Regions from separate parts of the Homo sapiens genome. Here region 2 is linked to region 1. A link means that fine-mapping ties the variant in region 1 to the expression of a gene that starts in the linked region. Tissue or cell type: whole blood. Region 1 holds a variant in brackets; the other region holds the start of a gene. All regions are shown on one strand. Distances are from middle to middle.

Region 1 (2,682 bases):
CCTGATTATTCCATTAAGTCAAGCCCCAGCATGCCTTTGGCAGAGAAGGTACCCAATTGTACATTCTCTTCCATGATCCTCCTTGAATCTATCTCCATAGCCCCATCAACTATATGGGCTCCCACATTCAAGGCACCAAATGAGGAGACCCACAATATCATTAACCTCCCCAAGGTCATGACCAGTTTGCAGCAATACTAGGATCAAAATCCCAGGCTTCTGACTCATCTTCTGTTCCTTCTCTGGCTCCCTGTTACCAACCCATCTTTCCACCCCTATTCCACCCAGATGCTGTGCCCATTTCACCATGGAAATCAGAGTCCTCCCTCAAACAAGAACCTACTACGGTCATCATAACTTGCATATTTCACTTAGGATTTCCCTTCATCCTGGCAGCAGTGAGTGCTTCCGCCAGAGCCCAGCTTTCTCAGGTAGTCACCACACTGGAGGCTCCCAAGGCCCATCACATGGGGAGCTTCTGTGACGCCTGCTGCTAAAAGCCTGTGTTCCAAGAACTGTTTCCTAGATTCTCATGTTCAATCTAGTTTCTCTGTCTATGGTCAGTTAGCTTCGGCACATAAGCCAGCATTTAAAAGGCGTTCAGGTGGTAAATGATTCTACCCACCTGTGTAATTGAAGAAACAGTCATCTCAGTCATCCGCAAGATCACCCTCAATTCTGACGCCAACTGTAAGGTTTGACGGGTTCTCAAGACTACCCATAGGTTTGATAATTTACTAGACAGACTCATGGAACTCACTAAAAGCTGTTATACTCACAATTATGGTTTATTACAGCTACAGGATACAGATTAAAATTAGCCAAGGGAAGATGCACAAGGCATGAGGACTCTTCCAGCCCCAGCTTATCATCTGCCCAGGTCCTCCAGCAAATTCCCTTTCTCCACAAGGAACAGGGCACATGGCCAGGGTCCTTCTCAGCTCTCTTCCCTCCATCTCCCATCTTGCTAAGACAGGACCTGTCCCAAGTCTCGCCCTCCCAGGGTCCTGGTAGGGAAGTAGCAAATTCACTTTGTAGAAGGAACTAAGGCATTACAACTAATAACATTGCCAGATGGCATTTGCCCTTTAACAAGGCTCCGAGACCTGACCTCAAAAGAGACCAGTGGCAGAAGAGATGCTTCTGCTTTCATAGGGAGTTACCTGGTGCCAACCCCACCCACAGAAGCAAAGAGAAGGAACTAAGG[C/T]GTTACAACAAATAATGTTGCCAGATGGCATTTGCCCTTTAACAAGGCTCCAAGACCTGACCTCGAAAGAGACCAGTGGCAGAAGAGATGCTTCTGCTTTCACAGGGAGTTACCAGGTGCCAACCCTGCCCACAGAAGAAAAGAGACCCCAAGAAATTGGCCAGCCCAACAGCTTTATGCCATCTGAACCCTGCAAAAGTCACAGAGATGTAAAACAAGCTGAAGAGATTCCATAAGTCACCTGGGGGGGTGCCATGCTCCAGACATTGCAGAGTCTGGTTCTAGAGGCCTGGAGAGGCCCATTGCCTCTGCTTCACCTCTGCCTTACCTTGCCTCAGCCATTTTCCCCAGTAGCAAAAGGGCCCTTCTGCCCTCTGCTCCCAAAGAACCTGCCTGAGCAGGCCCAGACCCTGTGTTCTCCAGCCCAGCATTACCCTGGGAAGTTCGATGGGGGAGGCAGGGACTTCATCTTTTTCATCTCCAAGTGCCACAGTGCCCTGTGGATAACAATGGCATCCACAGTGCTTAGTGGACAAGAATGGCATTGCCAGCTCCCCACAGCTGCACCAGCCCTGGCTCTGATCCCAGGCTGCAAAAAAAAAAAAAAAAAAAAAAAAAAAAAAAGGCAGGCAGGCCACTAGCACTCACTTATTTCCCAAGGATTAGGTCAGCCCCACACACAGTGTCTTCCAGACACTGGGAGAGGCCAGGTGCAGACCGCCAGAGATTCAGTGTAAAGCCTGCCAATCGGCCAATACCAGATGTTCAAGATGAAAATCTCATCTTCCCAAATGCTGAAGGGGTCCAGTGGATCAGGGACACTTGTCCCCAGGGTGTCCTGGCAGCTGAACTCAGCACCTTCTCTCCCACCTGTTAGCCATGAGGGCAGAGACACCTAGTATCCAAGGGCCAGGAGACACAGCACAGGAGTGGAATGCACTCGACACAGACGATTACCTTTCAAACGCTCCTCCTTCAACATCAGAACAAAGACTAGCCCAGTGGCCCAGACTTCCCTTACCACTTCCTTTATTTAGGAGGCCATGAACCCAGTCCTTCTTCTCAGCCCTGCCTCTGGGTTCAGGAACCAAGGCTAGACCTGCTTGTAGCTAATATGTGCCATGTGGCTTTTCATCTCAACTTTGTCACTTATTGTCTGTGACCTTGAGCCTTTTAAACTCTCCTCTGCCGATTACTCCTCTCTGAAATGGGAGTAAACTAACTTCCCAGAGAAGTCCTGTGGAGGAGTGAGGTGACACATGCCAAGAAGAGACAGGAACACCTGGAGATGCAGCAAACACTATTTTTATTTCATACCTGAAAGCAACAGTCTCTCTATGGAGTCGGCTGTGTTGGCTTTTACGCCCATAATGTTTGTGGTCGGATCATGTCTGTATTTAAACTAAACACAGTATTTAAGCCACCAGAAATAAGAAAACAAAGAGGAGAAAATTCCATCACATAGGTTTTTTTTT
Region 2 (2,682 bases), 180 kb before region 1:
AAAGCCTCTTAGAACCCCAGCCACTTCCTACCTCCTCCAGAAAAAGTTAAAATGAGCAGCCTGTGAAATTCCAGCCAGAGAGAACAAGAATGAAAATGCTTTCGGGAAATAGGACCTTAAAGCACGGGCGTCTGGGGAGTGATTCTACAATCGGAGCAGGCTTGGGCTCTGGGGGACGCTGGCAGACCCACGAATGCCTTGCCTTCTCCGGTGGGCAGTGCCGCCACGGTCGTGAGGGAGGGGAGCCTCCTCTTTTGGAGGACTATATCCCTCGTGCTTCCCCCTTCTAGTTCTCTTTCTCAGACACACACCACGAAAGGCATGTGACAGGTGTTCGCCAGCCGGAGGCACCGGGGAAGGCAGCCCCATGTGCCCAGGGAGGGTAGGGAGGTGAGAGGGGACCCAAGTCCTGTGTCTCCAAGTCCTGTCTGCTTGCTGCTAAGCAGGCACTGAGGCTGTGAATAAGGTCTTACCTTTTAAGGAGGATCTGACCCCCGTACCTTCCCTAGACAAGCAACATACGCGGCGATGCTTTAAGCCGCTTTCTGCCTGAAATCTCGGCGCATTCCCGGGGAAGCAGTGCCACGCTTCAGAAAGGCGTTTGTGCTGCCTCTTACTGGGGAAACGCAGTGTCTGTTTCATATGCGCCGCCCTACAGAACTGCAGCCCCAACCGCCTATCTGGCCTCCTCCCCGGGCGCTGGGCCACCACTCTCTCCAAATATGCGTCCGAATATCTGTGGGTCTGTCTCCCGTTGAAATCCCAGGGTGTCCAAAGGCCACGGGGCCGCGATGACACTGGGTAGGTCTCCGGAAACCTCTCAGGACTTCTCCCATTTTAAAGCCCAGCTAGGGACGAAAGGGGCTGGGAGCTGAAAAATTGCTCCCTCAACCTCCCCGGGTGGGAGGCAGAGCCGGGAATACACAGAATCCCACCCCGAAAGTCCCGGGAAAGAGAAGTCTGAGTCCAGGAGCGTGAGAGGAGAACACACCCGGGAAATCCCTGCTCCGGCCGCTGCACCTCCGCGGGCGTCCAGGTGGGACGTGGGCAGGTGCGCGAGCGCCGTGTGTGCCGGTGTGGATCTGTGTGTGTGCCTGCGTGTGTGCGTGTGCGTGTGCCGCGGGCTGGCTCCGGGACACTGAGGACTCCCGGGTCGGCCCAGGTCTGTCCGACCTTGCTGCCCTCGCCGCCCGCCCGGCCCCACTCCCCGGCGGGCCGGCTCCTTACCTGGACGCGCCGCGTTTCCCTCCTTCAGCGGGAGCGCCGCATTGACACTGCAGATGGAGCCTATGCCGCTGCCTCTCGCCCTCCTCTGAACGTGTGCGTGTGCGCGCGTGTGGCTGCCTCCTCCAGCCCCAGCCCCGAACGCAAATACTCCACCGAGGCACAGGGAAGCCGGGAGCAGCCGAGGAACGCGGAGGGCGCCGAATCAGAGCCTGCGGGGCTTGACAGCTTCTCTTGCGGCGTCCAAGGTGGGCGTAATGTCCAACAAAAAGGTCGGAAAATGGGGATCGATTCCGAACACCCCTTTCCTCCACCCAGCCCCGGAGCCCGAGCAGCGGCGGCGGCTCTCGGGGGCTGCGGTGGCGACGCCGGGCTGCCCCCCTTCGTCCCCACCCCCGCGGGCTGAATGTCCTTGATGCCAAGCGGGCACAGCGGCGTCACTCCGCGCCGCCCATGCTCGCCCGGTCGGGCCGCTGCCCGGGCGCGGCGAGTGCGCGGGGGACCCGCCGGGGAGCGCTCTCGGCGCCTCTGCGCGCCTCTCTGGGTAGCGGCGGCCGCCCCCCGGCAGCCCGCGGCCGGCCGCGCCGCGGCAGCCCCCACCCTTGCCGAGACACTCGCCGGGCAGTGCCCTGGGGCCGGGGCTGGGGGGCCGCGGGAGCCGCCGGCTGCTCCCCGGGGAGGCGCGGGGCTGCGGCGGTGGTGGCTGCGGCGGCTGGCGCTGCGGCGGCGGAGAGCTCGGCCGCGGGCCGAGCCGGGCCTCCCGGGCGCGCCCCCGGCCCCCCGGGCGGGCTGCTCGCAAAGTTTGCAGGGGGCAGGGAGCGGGGCCGCCGCTGGCTCGGCCGCCGCCGGAGCTCCCGGGCTGCCTGCTGCCGCCGCGGCTCGCTGCTGCTGTGCATTGAAGCCCGGCCAAGCGCTGCAAAAACTCCAGCTGCCTGGCGCTCTCTGGGTCCTCCTCTCCTCCCTCCCGCCCTCCCTGCTTCCCTTCCTCCCTCCCTCGCCTCGCCTCCTCTCCTCCCTGCCGCCCGCCGCCCGCCGCCGCTCCCTCTCTGGCTCGCTCTCGCTGGCTCGGAGCTCGCGGCTGACATCTAGAGCGAGGGAGAGCGGCCGGCAGAGGGGGCAGGGGGCGCCTCCCTACATGCTCCCACCCGCCGCCGCCCGGCTTGCCGGCTCTCCTCCGCACCAACGTTTGCCGACACCCCCCTGGGTCCCCTCGGCCCGCACGGAGCTACCCTGGCGGTGGCGATGTGGGGCGGAGAGAGGGGCATACATGGGTGACCGGAGCGCACGGCGCGCGCTCAGAGGGAGGCGCTCAGCCGCCTCGGAATTTGCAGCTCTGGGCGCTGGCCGTCGGAGGGACCCTCAGGTGCTCAGAGCTGACACAAGCGCACACTGACTCTGAGGCATACACCCATTGCTAGTCAGAACCCCTCCCAACACCCCACCAAGTCACCCCCACAT

Evidence for each region. PIP is the estimated chance that this variant, and not a neighbour inherited with it, causes the effect.
Region 2: it holds the start of PLXNA4, and the variant in region 1 is fine-mapped to the expression of PLXNA4 in whole blood (TOPMed, PIP above 0.99). The same link has a PIP of 0.9 or more in blood mononuclear cells.

Annotation. Positions count from the first base shown.
Region 1 is chr7:132,754,558-132,757,239 of GRCh38, forward strand. No RefSeq gene overlaps it. Among named protein-coding and RNA genes, the nearest start is that of FLJ40288, 110 kb to the left of the region's middle. The variant C/T (reference allele first, on the strand shown) is at 1,208.
Region 2 is chr7:132,575,195-132,577,876 of GRCh38, forward strand. PLXNA4 (plexin A4) reads right to left here and starts at 1,276. Exons shown (of 32, transcript NM_020911.2): 1 at 1,228-1,276. RefSeq lists enhancers at 1-737, 738-1,715.